2 separate regions of the Homo sapiens genome follow, and region 2 is linked to region 1. The links come from fine-mapping of genetic effects on gene expression. A gene starts in region 1. The other region holds a variant in brackets. All regions are shown on one strand. Distances are between the middles of the regions.

Region 1 (16,129 bases):
GGTTCAAGCAATTCTCGTGCCTCAGCCTCCTGAGTACCTGGGATTACAGGCGCTTGCCCCCACTCCGGCTAAATTTTTGTATTTTTAGATGGGGTCTCACCATGTTGCCCAGGATGGTATTGAACTCCTGGCCTCAAGCGATCCTCCCGCCTCAGCCTCCCAAAGTGCTGGGATTACAGGCATGAGCCACCACGCTTGGCCCCCCTACAGTTTTTGTTTGGTTGTTTGTTTGAGACAGAGTCTAGCTCTATCCCCCAGGCTGGAGTGCAGTGGCGAAATCTTGTCTCACTGCAACCTCCGCCTCCGGGGTTCAAGCGATTCTCCTGCCTCAGCCTACCGAGTAGCTGGGATTATAAGCACTCGCCACCCAGTTAATTTTTGTATTTTTAGTAGAGATGGGGTTTCGCCATGTTGACCAGGCTGGTCTCCAACTCCTGACCTCAGGTGATCCACCCACCTTGGCCTCCCAAAGTGCTGGGATTACAGGCGTGAGCCACTGCACCCAGCCCCTACACTGTTTTGATTATGATAGCTTTGTAGTAAGTTTTAAAATCAGGAAATTGAGTCCTTCAACTTTTTTTCAAGACCATTTTGGTATTCAGGGTCCCTTGAGATTCTGTATGAATTTTAGGATGGGTTTTTCTGTTCCACTGCCCTCCAGCCTGGGTGACAGAGCGAGACTCCATCTCAAAAACAAAAAAACAAAAAAAAAAATCATAGGGATTTGATATGATTTGTTAGGAATTTGCATTGAAACTGCAGATCGCTTTGGGTAGTATTGCCATCTTAACACTATTAAGTCCTTCAATCCATGAATGTGGGATGTTTTCTCTTTTGGGGGTCTTCTTTAATTTATTTCAGCAGTATATTGTAATTTTCAGTGTACAAATCTTTGAGCTCCTTGGTTAAATTTCTAAGTATTTTATTATTTTGATGCTATTGCAAAGGAAGTTATTATTTAAATTTCCTTTTCAAATTGTTTGCTGCAAGTGTATAAAATCTGAGTTGATTTTATGTCCTGCAACTTTGCTGAACTTAATTCTAAAATTTTTGTGTGGATTTCTTATGATTTTTCTATATATAATTATATAATCTGTGAAAAGAGATCCTTTTACTTCTTCCTTTCCAATGTGGAAGTCTTTTGTTTCTTCTTGGCGAATTGCTTTGCCTAGAACTTCTAGTACTTTGTTGAATAGAAGTGGTGAGAGCAGGCATCCTTGTCTTGTTCCTGGTCTGAGGGTACAAGCTTTTAGTCTTTCCCTGTAGAGTATGATGTTAGCTGTGGTTTACGGCCTTTATCATTTGGAGGACATTCCTGTCTATTTCTAGTTTATTGAGTGTTTTAATCATGAAAGGGGTTTGGCTGGGCGCAGTGGCTCACTCACGCCTGTAATCCCAGCACTTTGGGAGGCCGAGGCAGGCAGATCACCTGAGGTCAGAAGTTCGAGACCAGCCTGACCAACATGGAGAAACCCCATCTCTACTGAAATACAAAAAAATTAGCCGGGTGTGGTGGCGCTTCCCTATAATCCCAGCTACTCCAGAGGCTGAGGCAGGAGAATTGTTTGAACCTGGGAGGCAGAGGCTGTGGTGAGCCGAGATCACGCCATTGCACTCCAGCCTGGGCAACAAGAGTGAAACTCCGTCTCAAAATAAATAAATAAATAAATAAATAAATAAATAAATAAATAAATAAATAAAATCATGAAAGGGTGTTCATTTTTTCAAAGCCTTTTCTGCATCAATTGAGATGACCATGTGTTTTCTCCCCGGTTCATTCTATTAATGTGGTGTATTACATTGATTTTTTTCTTTTTTTTAAGACAGAGTCTTGCTCTGTCGCCCAGGCTGGAGTGCAGTGGCTTGATCTCAGCTCACTGCAACATCTGCCTCCCAGGTTCAAGTGATTCTCTTGCCTCAGCCTCCCAAGTAACTGGTATTATAGGCACCTGCCATCATGCATGGCTAATTTTTGTATTTTTAGTAGAGACGGGGTTTCACCATGTTGGGCAGGCTTCTCTCAAACTCCTGACCTCAGGTGGTCTGGCTGCCTCGGCCTCCCAAAGTGCTGGGATTACAGGTGTGAGCCACTGCACCCAGCCACACTTTGCATATTTTGAAGTGCATCTATTTACTTAGCATTCGTGACTTGAATAATTTCACCAAATGAATAATTTTGGGTAGTTTGAAATTCGTTCTTCCAATTGTTACACCTTGTTTGGTGTTTGTAATAAACACGTAAAGGTAAAAAAAAACAGTTTTTCTGTATTCTGCCAATCATACTTTTATATAATAAATCATCCATTTTTTTCCCATAAAAAAAAAGAAAGTTATTGCTTAATGTTACAGAATTTCTGTTTGGAGTGATGAAAAAGTTTTGGAAATAGTAGTGACAGTTGCACAAAATTGTGAATGTAATTAATACCACTGAACTGTGCACTTAAAAATAGCTAAAATGGCCAGGTGCAGTGGCTCATGTCTGTAATCCCAGCACTTCCGGAGGCCAAGGCAGGTGGATCACCTGAGGTCAGGAGTTCAAGACCAGCCTGGCCAATACGGTGAAACCTCGTCTCTACTAAAAATACAAAAAATTAGCCAGGTGTAGTGGCAGACACCTGTAATCCCAGTTACTTGGGAGGCTGAGGCAGGAGAATCACTTGAACTCAGGAAGTGGAGGTTGCAGTGAGCCAAGATTGCACCATTGCATTCCAGCCTGGGCAACAGAGCGAGATCTGTCTCAAAAAAAAAAAAAAAAAGCTAAAATGGCAAGTTTTATATTATATATGTTGTTTACCACACACACACACACAAATACTAAGAAAAAAATCAGGCAGATCCTCTTCTAACAACACTTACAGTCTATTAAGTGAATCTGGGCATTTTAAAGAAAAAAATAACTATTTTTGGTTACGGAATCAGGATAGTAGTTGCCTATGGACACGGGCAGTGGGGACTGACTAGAAAGGGAAGGGAAGGAAGTTCTTGGACCTAGAAGTGTTTTATGTCTTGATTGGGGTGTTTAGATAGGCATTACATTTGTCAAAACTCATGAAATTTTATACTTTAAGATCTGTGCATTTCACTCTATGTAAATTTTACCTTAGTAAAAAACAAAACAGGCTGGGCGTGGTGGCTCACGCCTGTAATCCCAGCACTTTGGGAAGCCAAGGTGGGTGGATCACTTGTAGTCAGAGGTACGAGACCAGCCTAGCAACATGGTGAAACCCCATTTCTACTAAAAATACAAAAGAAATTAGCTGGGTGTGGTGGCAAGCGCCTGTTATCCCAGCTACTTAGGAGGTTGAGGCAGGAGAATCGCTTGAACCTGGGAGCTGGAGGTTGCAGTGAACTGAGATGGACCCACTGCACTCCAGCCTAGGTGACCGAGCGAGACTCCATCTCAAAACAAAACAAAACAAAAAATGTTAGCAACTTCTAATCCCTTGACAGTTTATATATACCGCAGTGATTTTCTCCCACTTCTCACTCACGTGGGATCTTATCATACAGAGGTTTTAAATTTTAAACAATTAAATTTATCAACCTTCTTCATTTATGGTTTCTATATTTGTGTGTCTTGCTTCAGAAAGTATCTCTTATTCCAGGTAATCATATTATCCTATTTTTAAATTCTATTTTGGAATAAATATTTCTTATTCCAGGCAATCATATTATTCTATTTTTTTTCTATATTTTTATTGTTCTTTCCTGTGTGGGACATGTAGCTGGTGGGCTAGCTGCAGACCACGGGCAAGTTTGCTAACATTGCTAAGTCTTGGTTTTCTCATCCATAAAATAGGGATAATAATTTGCTTTGTTATTGACATGATTTAATAAAGTAATATTTATTTGTTTATGTATTTATTTTAGAGACAGGGTCTTACTCTGTTACCTAGGCTGAAGTGCAGTGGCAATCTCGGTTCATTGCAGCTCAAGTGATCCTTCTGCCTTAGCCTCCAGAGTGGCTGGGACTACAGGTACTGGGACTACAGGATGGGACTACAGAGTGGCTGGGCATCCAGCTAACTTAAAAATTTTTTTGGGCTGGGTGCAGTGGTTCATGCCTGCAATCCCAGCACTTTGGGAGGCCGAAGAGGGATTAAGAGGTCAGGAATTTGAGACCAACCTGGCCAAGATGGTGAAACCCCGTCTCTACTGAAAATACAAAAATTAGCCGGGCGTGGTGGCAGGCACCTGCAGTCCCATCAGGAGGCTGAGGTGGGAGAATCGCTTGAACCCGGGAGGTGGAGGTGGCAGTGAGCCGAGATTGCGCCATTGCACTCCAGCCTGGGCTACAAGAGTGAAACTCCACCTTAAAAAAAAAAAAAAAAAGCCGGGCGCGGTGGCTCACACCTGTAATCCCAGCACTTTGGGAGGCCGAGGCGGGCAGATCACGAGGTCATGAGATCGAGACCACCCTGGCTAACATGGTGAAACCCTGTCTCTACTAAAAAATACAAAAAATTAGCTGGGTGTGGTGGCAGGCACCTGTAGTCCCAGCTACTTGGGAGACTGAGGCAGGAGAATGGTGTGAACCCAGGAGGCGGAGCTTGCAGTGAGCAGAGATCATGCCACCGCACTCCAGCATGGGCAACAGAGCGAGACTCCGTCTCAAAAAAAAATTTTTTTTTGGCCAGTCACGATGTGTCACACCTGTAATCCTAGCACTTAGGGAGGCCAAGGCGGGTGGATCACTTGAGGTCAGGAGTTTGAGACCAGCCTGGCCAACATGGTGAAACCCCGTCTCTACTAAAAATACAAAAATTAGCCAGGGACAGTGGCATGCCTCTGTAATCCCAGCTACTCAGGAGACTGAGGCAGGAGAATCACTTGAACCCAGGAGTTGGAGGTTGCAGCGAGCCGAGATCACACCACTTCACTCCAGTCTGGGCGACAGAGCAAGACTCCATCTCAAAAAAAAAAAGTCTAGATGGGGCCGGGCAGGGTGGCTCACACCTGTAATCCCAGCACTTTGGGAGTCTGAGGCGGGTAGACGGCTTGAGCTCAGGAGTTCGAGACCAGACTGCACAACATGGTGAGACCCCGTCTCTACTAAAAATACAAAAAGAGAGAAAAAAAAATAGCTTGGCATGGTGGTGCACACTTGTGGTCCCAGCTACTTGGGCGGATGAAGTGGGAGGATTGCTTGAGCATGGTGAGGAGGGAGGTTGCACTGAGCCAAGATTGCGCCACTGCCCACCAGCCTGGGTGACAGACCAAGACCCTGTCTCAAAAAAAAAAAGAAACAAAAAAAAGGTGGGGCTCACTGGCTCACACCTGTAATCCCAGCACTTTGGGAAGCTTAAGGTGGATGGATCACTTGAGGTCAGGAGTTCGAGACCAGCCTGGATGACATGGCAAAACCCTGTCTCTACTAAAAATACAAAAAAATTAGCTGGGCCTGGTGACGCACGCCTGTAGTCCCAGCTACTAGGGAGGCTGAGGCAGGACAATTGTTTGAACTCAGGAGGCAGAGGTTGCCGTGAGCTGAGATCGCACCACTGCACTCCAGCCTGGGTAACCAGAGTGAAACTCTGCCTCCAAAAAAAAAAAAGAAGAAGAAGAAAAAAGGTTTAGGCAAACATGCACTTTTCCTGTTGCTTTTTTTTTTTTTTTTGAGATGGAGTTTCGCTCTTGTTGTCCAGGCTGGAGTGCAATGGCGTGATCTCGGCTCACTGCAACCTCCGCCTCCTGGGTTCAAGCGATTCTCCTGCCTCAGCCTCCCAAGTAGCTGAGATTACAGGCATATGCCACCACGCCCGAATAATTTTGTATTTTTAGTAGAGATGGGGTTTCTCCATGTTGGTCAGACTAGTCTTGAACTCCCAACCTCAGGTGATCCTCCCGCCTCGGCCTCCCAAAGTGCTGGGGTTACAGGCATGAGCCACTGCGCCCAGCCTGAACATGCCAGATTGTAGTTCCAGGAGGCCAGAGATCATGAATACTTTGTCCACCACTATATTCCCAGCCCACAGAATACACAGCCTGGCAGCCAACAGATGCTTATTGAATGAACGAGCCTCAACAGGGCTTTCTCATTCCCACATGCCATGCTGTGGTCAGGCTTAAATCATAACCCAACTTCTGCCACCTAATATATGTATGACCTTGGTTAAATTAAACCAGCAGTCCCCAACCTTTTTGGCACTGGGGACCAGTTTCATGGAAGACAATTTTTCCACCAGGGGAGGAATGGTTTCGGGATGATTCAAGCACATTACATTTATTTTGCACTTTATTTCTATTATTATTACATTATAAGGTATAATAAAATAATTATACAACTCATCATAAAGTAGAATCAGTGGGATCCCTGAGTTTGTTTTCCTGCAACTAGATAGTCCCATCTGATGTTGATGGGAGACAGTGAGAGATCATCAGGCATTAGATTCTCATAAGGAGCAACCTAGATCCCTCGCATGCGCAGTTCACAATAGGATTCATGCTCCTATGATAATCTAATGCCGCTACTGATCTGACAGGAAGCAGAGCTGAGGCGGTAATGCAGGCAATGGGGAGTAGCTGTAAATACAGATGAAGCTTCTCTCACCAGCCATTCACTTCCTGCTGTGCGGCTCAGTTCCTAACACGTCACGGACTGGTACTGGCCCCACGGCCCAGGGGTTGGGGACCCCTGACTTAAACTAAGGGCCAGCTTTCCAGAATAACATCCACTTTGAGGGCTTGTTGAGTGGATTAAGTCAAAATGTTGGTATACTTGGCTGGTGCGGTGGTTCACACCTGTAATCCCAGCACTTCGTGAGTCTGAGGCGGGTGGATCACCTGAGGTCAGGAATTTGAGACCAGCCTGGCCAACATGATGAAACCCCATCTCTACTAAAAATACAAAAAATTAGGCCGGGCGCGGTGGCTCACGCCTATAATCCTAGTACTTTGGGAGGCCAAGGCGGGTGGATCATTTGAGGTCAGGAGTTTGAGATCAGCCTGGCCAATATGGTGAAACCCTGTCTCTACTAATAAGTACAAAAATTAGTCAGGTGATAGTGGCGTGTGCCTGTAATCTCAGTTACTCGGGAGGCTGAGGCAGGAGAATCCCTTGAGCCTGAGAGGCAGAGGTTGAGGTGAGCTGAGATTGGGCTGTTGTTGAGTTGTAGGAGTTCTTTATATATTATAGATATTAACCCCTTATAAGATATATGATTTGATATTTCCTCTCATTCTGTTGGTTGCCTTTTCACTGTCCTTTCCTTTTTTTGTTTTTGTTTTTTGTGGGGCAGAGTTTTGATCTTTTGCCCAGGCTGGAGTGAAGTGGTGCAATCTCAGCTCACTGCAACCTCCACTCCCCAGGTTCAAGCGATTCTCCAGCCTTAGCCTCCGGAGTAGCTGGGATTATAGGCGCCCGGCACCATGCCTGGCTAATTTTGTACTTTTAGTAGAGATGGGGTTTCACCATGTTGGCCAGGCTGGTCTCAAACTCCTGACCTCAGGTGATCCACCCGCCTCGGCCTCCCAAAGTGCTAGGATTACAGGCTTGAGCCACCGTGCCCAGCCTGTTGTGTCCTTCGATGCACAGAAAAGACTCTTTTCTCTACTGAACGCCCACAGCACCCTTGTCAAAAATCATTTGACTAGTCAGGGCACAGTGGCTCACGCCTGTAATCCCAGCACTTTGGGAGGCCGAGGCGAGAGGACTGCTTGAGGTCAGGAGTTCGAGACATGCCTGGGCAACATGGCAAATGGCAAAACCCCGTCTCTACACACAATGCAAAAGTTAGCTGGGCATGGTGGGTGGCGTGTGACTACCGGCTGTCTCAACTACCCAGGAGGCTAAGGCGGGAGGATCTCTTGAGCCCAAGACGTCCAGACTGCAGCGAGCTTTGATTGTGCCACTGAACTCCAGCCTGGGCGATGACAGAGCAAGGCTCTGTCAAAAAAAAAAAAAAAAAAAAAAAAAAATCGGCCGGGTGTGGTGGTTCACGCTTGTAATCCCAGCACTTTGGGGGGCCGATGCGGGCAGACCACGAAGTCAAGAGATCAAGACCATCCCGGCCAACATGGTGAAACCTCGTCTCTACTAAAAATACAAAAATTAGCTGGGCGTGGTGGCGTGCGCCTGTAGTCCCAGCTACTCGGAAGGCTGAGGCAGAAGAATAGCTTGAATCCGGGAGGCGGAGGTTGCAGTGAGTCGAGATCGCGCCACTACACTCCAGCCTGGCGACAGACTGAGACCCCGTCTCAAAAAAAAAAAAAATCATTTGTATATGCGAAGGTTTTGTGCCACAAACTTTTGTGGCTGTTGATACAAACGACATGGCCTCTGCCTTAAGGAAGCCACAGTCGAATTAAATAGATTCCGTTTCAAGTAGCATCTGTCCTGTGTGCTTAGTGGGCACTGGGCCCATGTTTTCCCACATTTTACCCTTTAAGCTTCTGATCCAACCGGTGAGATAGATAGGATGATCCTCTTTAGTAGAGGGGTAAGCTTAGTCCCCTGAGAGCGCGGCTATGGCTTATGCGAGGGTACGGACAGTCAGGATTTGAACCCAAAGTTCCTGGCTCCATGTGTCATGCTACCTCCAGTCAGATGTTCTCACCTCCAAAACTTGGGCAGAAGTGAACTGAGATGCTCTCTACTGAGCAACTCTTCAGCTCCAGCATCCTATACATTAAGGAGTCACTAAAAGTCAGGGTCCACGAGAAAGGTGCAGATCGGGGTGCACAGAAGAGCGGAGTCCAAAACACCACTCCCAGCCCCAGTGGACAGAGTCCTCAAGTGGCAGCCCTGCAACTCTGAGCGGATGCCGAGTCCTCACCGGGAACCCGGGCGCGGCTGGTCTGTGCTATTGGCGCGGGTAGGGGACGCACAGCCCAAAAATGCCCGCGACAAGCTTCTGGGGCAGTTCTCGCCAGTCTCTCTGGAGGGAGCCTACGGGTTCTGCGACGTTTCTCGCACTTGCTCCCTGGCCTCGCTCCCGTTTCCACCCCTCCCACGGAGGTTTTCCTTTCTGGTGGCTCCTTCCTTGGGTGTCCCTTTGGTACGCCCCCACCCTGGCGGTGAGCTGCGAGGCTGGCGCCCGCGTGGCCACTGCGCATGCGGACCCGGCCGCGGGGCGGGGCCGCGCGAGGAGGAGGGTCGGGGACGGAAGCGCAGAGCACGGACCCCGCCCCCTCGCGGCCCCGCTCGTGACGTCGCGGGGGGCGCCGGCCTCCGCCCGGCCCCGAGGGGTAAGAGCGAGCGGCTGGCGGATCCGACGCGCGAGACCGGGAGGGGACGAGGGCGTTGCAATCGTTCGGGGCGGGGGCTTTCCGGGGAGGGGGTGCTCAGGTGCACCAGCGGCGGCGGACCCTCAGACTCTGCCCTCCCCTCCCTTTAACCCCCTTCCAGCCGGACGGGAGGCGGGGCAGGGCTGAGCATTTGTGACACCTACATTTCCGTGGCTCCCTTCTTTTCCCCCGACCCCTGTTTATCTCTTCGCCTTCCAGAAGTTCTTTTCCATCAGGCCGTCGCACCTTGCGTGGGAAGGAGCACCCCACTTGGAAGCAGGAGGCGGGGTTCAGATCTTGGCCCTACCCCTCCTGTGTTAAAGTCCGCGAGCCTCAGTTTCCCTCACAGTATTTTTTGCCTCGCCTTACCCGGTTTTGAGGATCTGTACGAGAAAGAGAAAGGAAGTGGACATTTGTTGAATTCCTGCATGGCCAAATACCACGCAGACTGCTTCATCCGCCACGTTTAATCCTTATTACTTGGTGTTCTCAGAACTCCCATTTCATGGATTCTTAAGCTCACAGAGTCAGTGAATAACAGAAAGGGATTCAGATCTAGCCGTTTAGCTGCACAGTGGAGTTCTTCTCCAGAGTCTTCCCTTGTCTGGGCTCTGGCTGGAACTATTCCTCAGCCAAATCCTCGCCCCAGAACAGTGCTTCCTGTTTCTCCAGCTGAGAAGTCTCCCTTTCAGTTTCCTTCTTCCAGCACGGAGTACACTGCTCTGCCTCCACTTAGATTACTTCAGAAATGAAATGCAGCAAATATTTATCCAGCAGTGCAGGGAGTTGAACTTTTGGAGTCGGGAACCTTGGATTCTTGTTCTGGCTCTGCCACTTACTGTGTGGCCTTGGGAAGTCCTTTGTCTTCTCTGAGCTTTCTTTTCTCTTTGCGTAAAAGCGGTGCTCTTGTCCCATTCTCCCTCCCTGTCTTCCAGCAGGCTCTCCCCGGAGGCTCAGCCCCCTCTGCTCCCCATGGGCAACTGCCAGGCAGGGCACAACCTGCACCTGTGTCTGGCCCACCACCCACCTCTGGTCTGTGCCACTTTGATCCTGCTGCTCCTTGGCCTCTCTGGCCTGGGCCTTGGCAGCTTCCTCCTCACCCACAGGACTGGCCTGCGCAGCCCTGACATCCCCCAGGTAAGTTCCCCACCCCCGTACCCGCTCTTCCTTCCAACCTAGACAGGCTTTTGCTGCTAATCTCATCTCACCCGTCTTCTTTTGCTCACAGGACTGGGTCTCTTTTTTGAGATCTTTTGGCCAGCTGACCCTGTGTCCCAGGAATGGGACAGTCACAGGGAAGTGGCGAGGGTCTCACGTCGTGGGCTTGCTGACCACCTTGAACTTCGGAGACGGTCCAGACAGGAACAAGACCCGGACATTCCAGGCCACAGTCCTGGGAAGTCAGATGGGATTGAAAGGTGAGATCAGAGGCTGGGTGTGGTGGCTCACGCCTGTAATCCCAACACTTTGGGAGGCTAAGGTAGGTGGATCATTTGAGGTCAGGAGTTCAAGACCAGCCTGGCCAACATGATGAAACACCATCTCTACTAAAAATACAAAAATTAGCCAGGCATGGTGGCAGGCGCCTCTAATCCCAACTACTCGGGAGGCTGAGGAAGGAGAATCGCTTGAACCCAGGAGATGGAGGTTGCAGTGAACCGAGATCGCACCATTGCACTCCAGCCTGGGTGACAGAGCAAGACTCTGTCTCAAAAAAAAAAAAAAAAAAAATCAGGTGCGGTGGCTCATGCCTGTAATCCCAGCACTTTGGGAGTCCGAGAAGGGCAGATCACGAGGTTAGGAGTTCGAGACCAGCCTGGCCAACATGGTGAAACCCCGTCTCTACTAGAAATACAAAAATTAACCTGGTGGTCTGGTTGCGGTGGCCCACAGCGGTAATCCCAGCAGTTTGGGAGGCCGAGGCGGGCAGATCATGAGGTCAGGAGTTTGAGTCCAGCCTGACCAACATGGTGAAACCCCATCTCTACTAAAAATACAAAAATTAGCCGGGCATGGTTGCACGTGCCTGTAATCCCAGCTACTCAGGAGGCTGAGGCAGGAGAATCACTTGAAGCCAGGAGGCGGAGGTTGCAGTGAGCCGAGATCGTACCACTGCACTCCATCCTGGGCAACAGAGCAAAACTCGGTCTCAAAAAAAAAAATTAGCCAGGCTTGGTGGTGCAAGCCTGTAGTTCCAGCTACTTGGGAGGCTGAGGCAGGAGAATTGCTTGAACCCGGGAGGTGGAGGTTGCAGTGAGCCAAGATCGTGCCACTGTACTCCAGCCTGGGAGACAGAGCAAGACTCCGTCTCAAACAAACAAACAAACAAAAATACAAAAAGTAGCCAGGTGTGGTGGCAGGTGCCTGTAGTCCCAGCTACTTGGGAGGCTGAGGCAGGAGAATCGCTTGAACCTGGGAGGCGGAGGTTGCAATAAGCAGAGATCACACCACTGCACTCTAGCCTGGGCAACAGAGACTCTGTCCCGCCCCGCGCCCCCCCCACCACCCTGCGCCAAAAAAAAAAAAGTAAGGTGAGATCACAGAGGACTGTGGGGTCGGGTATCAGAACACTCAGGGCTGGGCCCTGCCTCTGACCTCACCAATGATGACCTTGGGCACATCCCTGGACTTTAGTCACTTCTGTGATTAGGGCTTTCAGTGAACATGCTGCCGACAGGGTAGGTTTTCTATGAATGCTTTCTTCCTCTGCCAGTTCTGATGTTCTTTGAGTCTATCCTTGGAGGTAGGATGAAATGGGCTAGGTTTGACCTAATGTTTTCTCATCCTTTAGCCACCTCCTCCTAGAGGCCCCTTTTTCCTTAGCATAGTTCTGTATGCCACAAAAGATGCAGAAAAAAATTAGACACCATCAATTTCCAAAGAGCTATAGTCTTCTGGGAAAATGACAAGCGATAGGGAGAATGTGAAAATGTCAGTGGATGCCAATAATCCCTGTGTGACATTTGGCCTTATCTAAAATATGCTAAGATAAAGAGGGATGGAAGAGGGTGGTATTTTCTGACTTCTGAGGTCCTTTACAACACTATCATTCTAAGATTCTCCTGTGAGTATATATGTGTCGGGGGAGTGGGTCTCTGCATGTCCAGATGTACATGTATGTTAACAAAAATAAGGAATGTGTCCGATATATGCAGACTTGGGACAATTCTTTCCCATTCTTTTTACTTTTAAATAGATATATAATAGTTTTATTGAGATATGATTCATGTACCATACAATTCACCCATTGAAAGTGTACAGTTAGGGCCGGATGTGGTGGCTCATGCCTGTAATCCCAGCACTTTGGGAGGCCAAGGCAGGCAGATTGCTTGAGCGCAGGTGTTCGAGACCAGCCTGGACAAAATGGCAAGACTCTGTCTCTACTAAAAATACAAAAAAAAAAAAAAAAAAAAGCCAGGCGTGGTGGTGCACACCTGTGGTCCCAGCTACTTGGGAGGCTAAGGTGGGAGGATTGCTTATCCCTGGGAGGCAGGGCTTGCAGTAAACATTCTCCTGCCTCAGCCTCCTGAGTAGCTGGGATTACAGGTGCTCGCCATCACGCTCACCTAATTCCCGCCCCCCAGCCCAAGGAGTCTTGCTCTGTCACCCAGACTGGAGGGCAGTGATGCGATCTCAGCTCACTGAACCTCTGCCTCCCAGTTTCAGGAGATTCTCCTGCCTCAGTCTCCCAAGTAGCTGGGATTACAGGCATGTGGCACCATGCCCAGCTAATTTTTGTATTTTTAGTAGAGATGGGGTTTCACCATGTTGGCCAGGCTGGTCTTGAACTCCTGACCTCATGATCCGCCCGCCTTGGCCTCCCAAAGTGCTGGGATTACAGGTGTGAGCCACTGCGCCTGGCCAATTTTTGTATTTTTTATAGAGATGTGGTCTCACTATGTTGCCCAGGCTAGTTTCAAACTACTGGGCTCAAGTGATCCTCCTGCCTCACCTCCCAAAGTGCTGGGATTACAGGCATGAGCTACCGGGTCTGGCGTATTACCCAATTGTTTTATTTACTTTCTCTTGATTGCTAGTAAGGTTGAGCCTCTTATGGTTTATTGTCTGTATTCATGTTGCCTGTGAATTACCTGTTTGTTTCCTTTGTTCCTTTTTCTTTTAAGTTATTTGTCTTTTTCTTCTTGATTTGTAGGTCTTTATTCTAGATAGTAAACCTTTTGTCATTTAAATATATTATAGGTATTTTCAATATGTTACTTGTTTTTTTAACTTATCTTTCATTGCATAGAAGTCTTTAATTTTTATGAGGTTAGGTTTATCACTCTTGTCCTTTATTAAAACTTTTAGGTTTTGTGTCTTTCATAGGAAGCCCTTCCTCATTTTAAAATTAGAAAATATTCTGGCCAGGCGTGGTGGCTCATTCCTATAATCCCAGCCTTTGGAAGGCTGAGGCAGGTGGATCACCTGAGGTCAGGAGTTCAAGACTGGCCTGGCCAACATGATGAAACCCCGTCTCTACTAAAAATACAAAAAATTAGCCAGGCATGGTCGTGGGCACCTGTAATCCCAGCTACTCACAAGGCTGAGGCAGGAGAATTGCTTAAACCTAGGAGGTGGAGGTTGCAGTGAGCTGAGATTGCACCACTGCACTCCAGCCTGGGCAACAAGAGTGAAACTCTGTCTCAAAAATAATAAAATAAAATAAAATAAAATAAAATATTCTGTATTTTCTTTAAATACTTAAGTTTTTTTTTAGTTTGTATAGTTCTTTAATACATCTGAACTTTATTTTATAAGATAACAGTTTGACGCTATGTTTTTTTCTACATGGAAATTTTCCCAAGGCCATTTACTGAGGCCATCCTTTCCCCACTAATTTAAAATAGGGTGAGAACCTTTTAATGGATTTTGGTACCAAGTGAGAAACTGCTTTCTTAAAAAGAATGAACTAGTTTATGCAAACTGACATGGGCAATGTGTATCTGCCCATTTCACTGCAGCCTTGCGAGTATTAGTATGGTTGTTGTATTGATTGTAATTTAAGTTAATTTAAATTACAACTTAATTTGTGTTTATATTGATACAAAGTTATTTTCATTTCTCAGTGATATAAATAATGGTATATGGAATACTTTATTGAATAGAATCAATGCCAAAACACCTGGTATTATAGAAAGCCTTAAAAAATGACTAGGGGCAGGCGTGGTGGTTCATGCCTGGAATCCCAACATTTTGGGAGGTCAGGGTAGCAGGATGGCTTGAGCCCAGGAGTTTGAGTCCAGCCCGGGCAATACAGTGATACCCTGTCTCTACAAAAAAATTTTTTTAAATTAGCCAGGTAGGTGGCACACACTTGTAGCCCTGCCTACTCAGGAGACTGAGGTGGGAGGATCACTTGAGCCTAGGAGGTTGAGGCTCCCGTGAGCTGGGATCGTGCCACTGCACTCCAACCTGCACGACAAAGTGAGACCCCATCTCAAAAAAATAAAGAAAGAAAGAAAATACAAGAAAAGGGCCGGGCACGGTGGCTCACGCCTGTAATCCCAGCACTTTGGGAGGCCAAGGCGGGCGGATCACGAGGTCAGGAGATCAAGACCATCCTGGCTACCACAGTGAAACCCCGTCTCTACTAAAAATACAAAAAATTAGCTGGGCCTGGTGGTGGGCACCTGTAGTCCCAGCTACTCGGGAGACTGAGGCAGGAGAATGGTGTGAACCCGGGAGGCGGAGCTTGCAGTGAGCCGAGATTGCGCCACTGCACTCCAGCCTGGGTGATAGAGCGAGACTCCGCCTCAAAAAAAAAAAAAGAAAATACAAGAAAAGAAGCGTGAAGACAGAGGCTCCCGCGTCACCTCTCATTTTCTTCCATTTTCTCTTCTGTGCCTTTCACAGGATCTTCTGCAGGACAACTGGTCCTTATCACAGCCAGGGTGACCACAGAAAGGACTGCAGGAACCTGCCTATATTTTAGTGCTGTTCCAGGAATCCTACCCTCCAGCCAGCCACCCATATCCTGCTCAGAGGAGGGGGCTGGAAATGCCACCCTGAGCCCTAGAATGGGTGAGGAATGTGTTAGTGTCTGGAGCCATGAAGGCCTTGTGCTGACCAAGCTGCTCACCTCGGTAAGAGCCTCAGATGGGTCGCCAGGGTTTTGTAGACTGCCTGCTGACTACTGTATCTTGAAGGTCCCTGGAAACAATTCTACCTTGTAGAAAAAGCACAGGTTTTATAACCCTGCCTTGGGGGCTGTGTGACGTAGAACAAGTGTCTAAACATCTCTGAGTGTCAGCATCCTCATCTGTAAAACAGAAAACATGACCCTATCTCTTAATTCCATCAAATAAGGATTAAATGAGAATGACCGTGAAGTGCCCAGCACATTGCCTGGGACATAGAGATTTGATAAGTGACAGCTATTGTTGTTTACTATTGTCTTTAAAACATTCTCTCTACTTCAAAGGAGTTCAGAAGCTATAATAAGAGGCAAATGGGCTAATTGCTATTAGAGAGATGTGAGCAAAGTGTTATGCAAACACAGAGAAAGGAGCCATTAACCCTAACTTGAACATTTATGGAGAGTGCATCACAGAGAAGGTGGCATTTACCAGAGAGCATTGTGCACAGTGGTTTATAATGCACAAAGTGCTCTCAGGGTTCATTAATTCATTTGATCTTAAAATAGCCTTTTGAGGTAGGTGTTATTATCCCATTTTACAGATGAGGAAACAGGTTTAGAGAAAGGGAGTGAATTGCTGCAGGCCACACAACTGGTTAAGTGGCAGAGCCAGGGTTGCAACCCACACCTTCTGTCAAGTCAGAATGATCCTTGAAGAATGAGGAAGATTTGGACAGGGACTGCAGTAGAGGAGGTTCAGGAGAGGGGGAGGTACACTCCAGGCAAAGGCACCAGCATGCGCACAGGCCTAGAGATTGAAAAGTGTTC
Region 2 (10,487 bases), 780 kb after region 1:
CCCACCAAAGTAGGGGGTAGGCAACTGGTTGTCATGGAAATGGGGATCATCACAGTCCCCTTCCCCTTCACCCCACGTGGCTGGGCAGTGTTAAGGGTGGCAAGATAGTCTCTGTCCCCACCCCCTTGTACTTGATTCCCCAGCTGTCTTTCACACAGCCCCCCACCCTTAGGGGAAGGGGGAGGGGCTTCTCTACAATGAGGTTTTTTTCTTTTTTTTTTTTTTTTAAGAAGAAAAAATAATAAACTTAGTTTCTGTATGAGCATCCGCGTAAGGAGGCTTCTGATTTTCTGGTCTGGTGGAGGGTTGGGTGGGAACTTGGGCATCGTTTTTCTCCTCCCTCTTGTTCTTGCAAAGATCCTAGCACCTGATCTCTAGCCCAGGACTATATGTTCCAGGCAGAAATCTACCCAAGAAGAGGGAAGATTGGTGAATTTGATGTGGTAGGGTGCCTTTCCCCAGTCAGTTTGAAGTCACAGATATCCTTTTCCTCTCATTTCTTTTCCCTCGGTTCCTAGACGTTCCTCGGAGCTCTTTGATGCCTCAGACCTTTCCCTTTTATCCCTCTTGCTCAGGTGCTTCCTTTCACAACTTTTTCCAGAGGGCAGGCGTCCTAGCTCCAGTTGCTCCATCCCTTGGGCCCTCCCCTGCTCTTCATCTAGCCAAACTGGTTTGAGTCAGCCACACCCCTTCCCAGCTCCCTGGGCTCTTCACGTGGTGGCTGGCCACTCAACCCCACCCCTGGGCTTGGCTTGGAGCCCTGAGTCAGCTCCATCACCACCCAAGCCAAACCAAAGCTGAGGCAGGAGCCGAAACTCAGAGTCCTTCAAGGCCTATAGCCAGGTAAGAGCCCTGTTCATTTTTACATTCTCTGTTCACTCCCTGGGCCCTCCTTGTGTCCTCCTGTTGACTCTGTGCTTACCTCATCTGAGTTATTTCTTTGTATCTACTTCCCTGCAGCTTCTTGGCACACATCATTCTTTGCTCTCTACTTGTCTCGCCCCTTTCACCTTTCCTATCCTTCGTTACTTGGGTTCAGGGAGCCAAGGTGGTTTCATTTTGTCTGGGTTGTAGGGGAATGGTTGGAGATAAGGGTAGAAAGGTGGTTTGATGCCAGGGCCTAGAGGACCTGAGAAGTAGGGAGACAAGAAATGATTAAGTAGGGCATCATTTTGCAGGTTTCTGTGTGGTAATGAGGTCATTTAGACTCAGTGTACTAGTCTGATTGTGTTATGTGGCCTGGGTTAAATTGGAGAGAGGAGGTGGCAGGGAGGCAGCATAGCAGAGGAAGCCCTGACTTAGGGAAGTAAAGTCTTTCTGATGTTTGGTTTTAGTGGTAATAAAGGGCTTACTTGGGTACATTTTCCTTACCTTTCTCCATTCCCATAACTGTTTTCATGTAAAATGGCTGCTTTGCTTGAAACGGGTTGCAGTACCTAGGGTCCTGCTCTCTGACATCTATAATACTCAGGGGGCAGCCTCTTGGGAATTTGGGGGAATTGTAGAGTCCTTTGAAATACAGATTAAAATAACAGATTCATAGCAGCTTTCAAGAGTTTGTATTTTTCCTCCTTCTCGGTGTGCACCTGTCATTTGGCTTCTTCCCACTTGTTGAAACACTAAATAATACAGATAATGCCTTGTCTACACTGGCTTGCTTTCAAAGACTCAGAACCTCAAGCTTAGGTAAAAGGATTCCAGCCACACATTTCCTCTCCTGCTCTGTGAGTCACTAGAGGAATTCCCCAGTAAGGCAACATTCCTGAGTGCCAGGCTAGGCCATGAGAACAGAATGCTCTGAGAGGGGTGGAGTCTGAGCAAGCAAGGCCAAGGGCTCTGTTGTTGGGCTCACAAGTACCTTGACTATCGCCCACAGGTGATGGAGGACGAGGAGAAGGCAGTGGAGATCTTGGGCAACACGGAAGCTGCTCATCCTCCATCCCCCATCCGCTGCTGCTGGCTCCGCCTCCGCTGCTTGGCAGCTACTAGCATTATCTGTGGCTGCTCTTGCCTGGGAGTCATGGCTCTGGTGTTTGCCATCAAGGTGAGGAGTGCAATTCCCATGGGAATGGGGGTGGGTATAAGGCAATGGTTTCATGTATCTGATCTATCTACATTGACCAGTCACTGAATACCTATCAGTGCTCTGGGCCTAGTGCCAGAAATAAGAATAAGACAGGGTTCCTTGTCGTCAGAGGACCCATAATCTAATGAAAGAGGTGACAGTGAAAATGGGTAATTAATAGAATGCAGTTCATCAGTACCGTAATACAGGAAGCACAGGACAGTGTGGGAGCCAGGGAAGATCTATGTATGTAATTATATATGTGTATATGGTAGAATAGGTGACTGGAAAGGCATCCTAGGAGAGGTGACAGGATTAATCTTAAAGGGTGAGTGAGTAAGTGTGGAAGGGCATTCCAGATAAAAGGAGCAGTGTGTACAAAGGCCTGTGGAGCATGACTGGACCAGTGAGGAATAGTGAGAGATGAAGCTAGAGGACCCAGATTCCCAAGGGCCTCCAGTTCTGTGCTTAAGAGTTTTGACTTTATCTTGAAAGTACTGGGGAGGCATTGAATGGCTCCTGCAGGGGAAAGTGACATGGTCAGATTTGAGTTTTAGGAAGATCCACTCTCAAGGCCTACATCGAGGGTGAATTGGAGGGGGCAAGGCTGGAGGCCGCTGAACGGTGATGAGCGCAATCTCTAGGAGTCTGAAAGACACTTGGGTTTTTGAGAGGGCTTCACCATTTCAAAAAGCCTATTAGAAACAGCACATGTCCGCCGGGCGTGGTGACTTAGGCCTGTAATCCCAGCACTTTGGGAGGCCGAGGTGGGCAGATCACGAGGTTAGGAGATCGAGACCATCTAGGCCAACATGGTAAAACCCCGTCTCTACTAAAAATACAAAAATTAGCTGGGCGTGATGGTGCGTGCCTGTAATCCCAGCTACTGGGGAGGCTGAGGCAGGATCATTGCTTGAACCACGGAGTCGGAGGTTGCATTGAGCTGAGATCATGCCACTGCACTCCAGCCTGGTGACAAAGCAAGACTCTGTCTCAAAAAAAAAAAAAAACAAAAAAAAACAGCACATGTCCTTTAGGAAAGGCTACACAGGCTAACTTAAACTTCATGCTGGAATCTTCTCAACCCTAGACATATTTTAACAGTCAGAAACTGTAAGAACTCCTGGGTTCCATTAGGGCAAAATCCTAAAAAGGGCCCTTAATGATAACAAAGAGGCTGGGCGCAGTGGCTCACGCCTGTAATCCCAGCACTTTGGGAGGCCGAGGTGGGCAGATCACTTGAGGTCAGGAGTTCGAGACCAGCCTGACCAACATGGTGAAACCCCGTCTCTACTAAAAATACAAAATTAGCTGGGCGTGGTGGCACGTACCTGTTATCCCATCTATTTGGGAGGCTGAGACACGAGAATTGCTTGAACCTGGGAGGAGGAGGTTGCAGTGAGATTGCACCACTGCACTCCAGCCTGGGTGACAGGAGTGAAACTGTCTCAAAAAAAGAAAAAAAAAAGATGGAAAAGATGAGGCCCATTGGGCTATGAGAATGAGGTGGTGTTTGGGCATGAGTGAAGTTACTCTAGCCTCACTGTTTCTTGCCAATAGTTACAAATTCTGAATCAATCTTGGATAGTTGGAAAGAATGGGGAATAACAGAATTGGAAAGTACTTTCCCATAGGCGATCTTGTGAGCTATGGCCACCCTGAGAAGTAGGCAGGGCCCAGAGATGGGTACCTTATTTTGCAGATGAGAGGTTAGAATCAGAAACTGGAAAGGGAGGTAGAGGGTTTGGATGTGAGATTTTGATCCGTGACAGGGAAGGGGGAGCGGAGTGGGGAAATGGGCACCTTGGGGCAGAAGCAGGGGGAGAACCTAACCAAGAACCTGCCCCCACAGGCGGAAGAGCGGCATAAAGCAGGCCGGTCCGAGGAGGCAGTGCGCTGGGGGGCCCGGGCCCGGAAACTCATCCTGGCCAGCTTTGCTGTCTGGCTTGCTGTCCTCATTCTGGGTCCCCTGCTGCTGTGGTTGCTCTCCTACGCCATCGCTCAGGCTGAGTGACCCTGGATGGCCTCTGCTGAGAGCCAGCCGAGACCTCCTGGATCCTGCAATGCGGCATTGCTAAGGTCCTGTGACAGCAGTGGTTGGAAGGATCCTGGTTGGAAGGATGGGGACTCTCTCAAGGGGCTTTGGAAGAGCTCTTCTAGCCCTTTATAAAAGGAGGGCAGCAGCTGAGACTGATGAGAGGAGGGCAGCCTGCTCTGTTCTTTCAGGGCCCCCCACCCCCATCTCCCCTACCCTAGCCCACCCTAGGGCCTCTACCCAGCGGGAGGGGTTGAAGACCAGGCCTGGTTTTATTAGAATTCATTTTGTAATAAAAGCCTTTTTTAGTGGTGAAATACTCCTGTCTAATTGTTCTCCTCCTGCTTTCCCTTGGGCCCTTGGTGAGAGCCAGACTGGACATCTGACTGATAGCAGAAGCCAGCATCCACCTCATCCAGGAGCTCCAAGAGAAGGAAACAATTTTTATTTTCTTCTTCTGGAAGTTTCCCTTCTTGGAAAGACCCCAGCTTCTCCCTTGTACGTCCACAGAGACTCTGAGGCCAAGAGTAGTAGCAGCTGCTACTATTTATTACTTACTATATTCCAGGCTGTGTTCTAAGCACTTTATATTTCTTAACTTCCTCCAGTTTTCAGTCACTCAGTAGATGTCTGTACTATCATATCCATCATATGAATATATCACATATGATAGGTACCAACTATCTGAGTGAAAACTGGAAGAAATGTTCTAAAATGACAGTGTTCTCGTTTTATACTTGAAGAAACAAACAGATTTGCACAAGGTCCTCAGCTACTAAATGGTAGAGCTGAGACTGAACCCAGACAGTTTGGTTCCAGAGCTGAGAGAGGAGTGAAAGAGTTGGGTAACAGCAACAACCATCCTGTACATGGAGATTTGAGTGATTAAAATGGATTTTCATATCTTTTATCTTGGACCTCATAATATTTCAAATTTTTTTTAAAATTATGAAG[TATATC/T]ATACATATAGGAAAATACCCAAAACAAGTATACAGTTCATTAACACAAAGCAAACGTGAATAACCACATTCAGTAAAGAAATTGGAACACTGTCAACACTTCAAAGCCTCCTTTATACTCCTCCCAATCACTGCTACTTCCTTTCTTCCCACAGGTAACCACCATTCTGACTTCTAGCAGTGTCATTTAATTTTGTCTGCATTTGAACTTTATATAAATGGAATCATGTATTCTTTTCATGTTAACATTGTGAGATTCGTCAATATTTGGAATAGGTGTAGTTTTCATTGCTGTGTAGTATTCAGTCATATGAATGTATCACAATTTGTCCATTTACTGTTGGTGGACTTTGGGATGTTTGCAGTTTGGGGTTATTATGAGTCATGCCTTTTGGAGTACGTCTGTCCTGGCAAGCACCTTACCATAATTCAGAGTCCAGAAGAGCACCTAAAGGAACTGGAGATGTTGCACACTGAAGAGACTAGAGGGGAAGGAGAGGCACATGATGGCTGTCCTCAGTGTTCCCAAATGCTCCAGGAAGAAGGAAGAGAATAGATTGGTGGTCTCAGAAGTTAGAATTGAAACAGTGGGTAGAAGATAAATATACAGGGCAGTGTTCTCAACATAGCTTCACAGTGGAACCACCTGGAAGCTTTAAAAAGTAGTTAGGCCTGGGCTTTATCCAGACTACATTCTGACTTAATCGGTGTGAGGTACAGCCTTGGCATCAGGATTTCTCAGTTTCCCAATTAATTGTAGTACACATAGTTTGAGAACTACTGCTCTATAGATAAGATTTTATTGTATTCCCTCTGCAATTTCTAAATCAGGAAAAAAGGGTAACACATTTTAGAAAGTGTTTTTGTTTTTTTGTTTGTTTGTTTTGAGAAGGAGTCTCGCTCTGTTGCCCAGGCTGGAGTGCAGTGGCACAATCTCTGCTCACTGCAAGCTCTGCCTCCTGGGTTCACACCATTCTCCTGTCTCAGCCTCCCAAGTAGTTGGGACTACAGGCGCCCGCCACCATGCCCGGCTAATTTTTTGTATTTTTAGTAGACGGGATTTCACCGTGTTAGCCAGGATGGTCTTGATCTCCTGACCTCGTGATCCGCCCACCTCGGCCTCCCAAAGTGCTGGGATTACAGGCATGAGCCACTGCACCTGGCCTGTTCTTTGTTTTTTTTTTTTTTTTTAACTCTTAAGTTCTGGGATACAAGCAGAACATGCAGGTTCGCTACGTAGGTATACATGTGCCATGGTGGTTTGCTTCACCCATCAACCTGTCATCTAGGTTTTAAGCCACCATGCCCTGCTAATTTTCGTATTTTTAGTATAGACGGGGTTTCACCATGTTGGCCAGGATGGTCTCGATCTCTTGACCTCGTGGTCCACCCGCCTCGGCCTCCCAAAGTGCTGGGATTACAGGTGTGATCCACCGCGCCCGGCCCAACGCATAGATCTTAAGTGTGCAGCTTGATTATTATTATTTTTTTTTGAGATGGAGTCTCGCTCTGTCACCCAGGCTGAAGTGCAGTGGTGTGATCTCACTGCAACCTCTGCCTTCTGGGTTCAAGTGATTCTCCTGCCTCAGCCTCCTGAGTAGCTAGGATTACAGGCGTGTGCCACCACGCCCGGCTAATTTTTGTATTTTTAGTAGAAATGGGATTTCACCATTTGGTCAGGCTGGTCTCGACCTGACCTTGTGATCCACCCACCTCAGCCTCCCAAAGTGCTGGTATTACACGCGTGAGTTAACCGTGCCTAGCCGACGAATGTTTTAACGTAAATAAACCTGTGTAGTCAGTCACTCACCACCTATAGGAATATAACATTTGCAGCACATCAGCAAGTTCCCTCATGCTCTTCATTATTATTTTTATCCCCGATATTGACCTATGGAAACCCTTTCAATCTGGTTCCTGTGTCCTTGTGATAAGCCCCGCTCATTAGTAATGTCTGGCACAAATCACTCCAGACTCACCTTGTACTTTCCCTGCTGAAGCCTAGAAATTGGCCATTTCTCCTGAAAAGACTTAGTTCCTTTTATTGGGTACTGTTATTGAGAAATCAGCATCTAGACACTAGGCGTTCTACTGGGAAGTTACTGCTTAGGGCATTCTGAAAGCAGAGGTAAGAGCCAGTAAATAGTTAATGTTATCTACTTTACATCTTTTAAAAATCTTTTTAAAAATTCCAGTCAATCATAGGGTTCTTTCTCCACTTTCCCCATTCCAGATTCCAGATTCCAGATTCCCACAGTTAAGAACCTTGGCTTCCAGTCACATCAATATATTGATTACTCAGCTTCAGAATTATTATCCTGTTATATTACCAAACAACAAATCTAAGTAAAGTTCAAGATTTTTTGCAATTTTGCCTTTAGATTGATGGTATAGAGTCATAGTACTCTATAAAAAGTTACCTGAATTCATTTTTCTTCCCTCATAATTGTAATCCCAAAGTGTCATTTCTAAGATAGCTGTAGGGAGATAAGTTAATTCTTTTCCTCTTTGGCTGGAACATAACCTCCACAGGGTAGGGGTGTGTGTGTTGTTTCATTGCTCTCAGTCTAGTTCCTAGGTCTTAGACGGTCATAAAAATTTGTTAGTGAATGCCAGGTTTGAGCTATGCACTGAGTCACTCCTGGCAGAATCTAACAACCTGGTGGGTTTAGAACAGAGTGTGATACAAGGCTTTTGGGAGAGGGTGGAAGATTGAGAAAGTGTGTAAATCCCAGATAGTAAACGCTAGGGCTTTGGATGTATTTAGGAGGAGTTGAAGCGGACACAGAAAAGGCTTCCTCTGGCATTTTAAGTCCGAACTAAGAGGCCAAGCTGGAGTCCAAGCTGCGTGTGTCCAAATGTTTTAAGGGCTGGAGTGTACTCAGGACAGGCGCTTTGGGCCAGGCTGCTAATATTGAAAAGAGCTTGCTGGGCGTTGTGGCTCAAGCCTGTAATCCCAGCATTTTGGGAGGCTGAGGCGGGAGGATCGCTTGAGCCCCGAAGTTCAAGGCTGCAGTGAGCTATGATCGCGCCACTACACTGCAGCCTCAGCGTGGGCTACAGAGCGAGACCCTGTCTGAAAAAAGAGAAAATGCTGAATTCAGTTAGGGATGCTTGGAGGAGACCGAGGGAACCCTGCTCAAGTCTGGGAACTAGAGGCGCGGGAAGGTCCTGCTTCCCCGCCACCCAGAGATCACGTTTCCCAGTAAACCCAACTTCCGGGTCCCATTCCAGGCCTCCAAGCCCACGTGACAACAAGCTCCGCCCTCTGCTGTCCCGCAGATGCCACTCGGTGATTGGCCGCGTCTGAAGCCGCGCCCCGGCGTCGCGTTGCAGCCTTAGGTCCAGCCGAGCGCCGACTCACGCCCCAGCCCCAATTGGGCGGCCGGTTTCCAATTGGAAGGGCTTCTGAGCCTCAGTCTTCGGGCGGCGCTGACCATTGGCGGGCAGGATGGAGGCGGAGCCTTGGGTTGTCGCCCGCCGCCGGGGGTTAAGGTGAGCGACTGCAGGCAAACCCGGCGACAGCGCAGCTCGCGTCGACCCTGGCTCCTCTGCCTGCCCCCTCAGGTGAGCCTGCGCTAGACCCCCGTCCCCTTCCTGCGCCCGCCCGAATGCGCCTGCGCGGCAACAGCCGCCTGCCCTTGCGCCCCTTCCCCCTGCCTCCTGGGCACATCTCCCCACTCCCCTCCCTGCCCTGCCATCCTCCCGCCCCCAGGCTCTTCTGCGGGGTCTCCCCAGTCCGGGTCCTTCCCCCACCCCCCCCCACCCCCCAGGACCCTGGCGCCCCAGCTGCAAGGGCTGCGCCCCCGGGAGCCGCCATGCGGGTCGTCTCAGAGCCTGTGGGCCTCCCTGCCCTCACTGCCCTCCTCCTCCGCGCAGGCCCCCGCCTCCTTCAGGATGACGCTGGACGTGGGGCCGGAGGATGAGCTGCCCGACTGGGCCGCCGCCAAAGAGTTTTACCAGAAGTACGACCCTAAGGACGTCATCGGCAGGTAAGGCCGCGGCCAGGGAAACGGAGGTCCAAAGAGGTCGAGCCCCAGCATTCCCGCTTCCGTTTGAAGGCTGGAGAGTTCGCGGGTGGTGGTGGTGGTGGTGGTGGTGGTGGTGGTGGTGGTGGTGGTGGTGGTGGTGGTGGTGGTGGTGGTGGTGGTGGTGGTGGTGGTGGTGCTGCTGCTGCTGCTGCTGCTGGTGGTGCTGGTGCTGGTGGTGGTGGTGCTGGTGCTGGTGGTGGTGCTGGTGGTGGTGGTGCTGGTGGTGGTGCTGGTGGTGGTGCTGGTGGTGGTGTGTGTGTGTGTGTGTGTCTTTCGGTGGTGGTGGTGCTGGTGCTGGTGGTGCTGGTGGTGGTGGTGTGTGTGTCTGTGTGTGTGTGTGTGTCTTTCAAGTTCAGGTTTTCTCAGGAGAAGACTGGATAGTTGGTTTTGTTTGTTTGTTTGTTTGTTTTTGAGACGGAGTCTCGCTCTGTCGCCCAGGCCGGAATGCAGTGGCGCGATCTCGGCTCACTACAACCTCTGCCTCCTGGGTTCAAGTGATTCTCCTGCCTCAGCCTCCCGAGTAGCTGGGATTACAGGCGCGCGCCACCACGCCGGCTAATTTATATTTTTAGTAGAGGCGGGCGTTTCACCATATTGGCCACGCTGGTCTTGAACTCCTGATCTCGTGATCTGCCCGCCTCAGCCTCCCAAAGTGCTGGGATTACAGGCGTGAGCCACCGCGCCTGGTTGACTGAATAGTTCTAAATGGGAAGAATCAGTGATCAGTGGAGAACACCTAGTGACTAGACTCTTACCTTGGGTCAACCCCATTTTTTCACGGATTCATTCATTTATGCCTTCAACACAAAGCTCAACACGGGGAGGGCAGAAAAGATGCGTATGCCCTGGAGGTACTCCACCCGAAGTGACTGAAATTGGCACGTGAACGTTAAAAAGGCATCAGGCTAGATAGGTAGAGGTCTGTATCAAGTGCTATGGGATTCCAGAAAAGCACACCTTCTCAGGAGGAGTCACCTTTGGGCTGGGTCTTGAGGTATGAGTAGGAGTTCAGGGGGGGGTCTTTAAAATCGCAAAAATGTATGCGTGTGGTAGATGTCTCCAGCTTTCATCAGATTCTCAAAGAGGCTCATTAAAGCTGGGTCATAATTAAAACATGGCCTCAAACTCAGATGCCCTTAGTGGTTGCGCAGGAAATTGAAACTGTGAAGTGGCCAAGAGTAAGAGAGTAGGAAGTGTTGTGGAAGGTGGAGGGTTTTGCCCCACCTATGATGTATGAATTCAGATTTGTGTAAAAAAATAAAAAAAAAATTGCACCGGCCAAAACGTAACACATCTGAGGGCTGTGTTTGGCCTGTGGATCAATAGTTTACATCCCTTGATTTAACTAGATGTGGGTGGCCGAATTCCCAAGTGAGTTATGTGAGGCCAAGGAGGCC

What was found.
Region 2: its variant is fine-mapped to the expression of TMEM219 in whole blood (TOPMed, PIP 0.98).

Annotation. Positions count from the first base shown.
Region 1 is chr16:29,952,947-29,969,075 of GRCh38, forward strand. It overlaps TMEM219 (transmembrane protein 219), which reads left to right and starts at 9,133. Exons shown (of 6, transcript NM_001083613.2): 1 at 9,133-9,186; 2 at 10,161-10,362; 3 at 10,454-10,643; 4 at 15,079-15,308. The coding sequence starts at 10,198. RefSeq lists an enhancer at 8,506-8,615 and a silencer at 8,966-9,415.
Region 2 is chr16:30,739,865-30,750,351 of GRCh38, forward strand. TMEM265 (transmembrane protein 265) reads left to right here and starts at 778. Exons shown (of 3, transcript NM_001256829.2): 1 at 778-843; 2 at 1,877-2,044; 3 at 3,918-5,332. The coding sequence starts at 1,880. The coding sequence ends at 4,079. It overlaps PHKG2 (phosphorylase kinase catalytic subunit gamma 2), which reads left to right and starts at 8,561. Exons shown (of 10, transcript NM_000294.3): 1 at 8,561-8,626; 2 at 8,939-9,051. The coding sequence starts at 8,957. It overlaps SRCAP (Snf2 related CREBBP activator protein), which reads left to right. Exons shown (of 34, transcript NM_006662.3): 34 at 1-1,545. RefSeq lists an enhancer at 1,066-2,265 and silencers at 8,308-8,607, 8,648-8,787. The variant TATATC/T (reference allele first, on the strand shown) is at 5,055.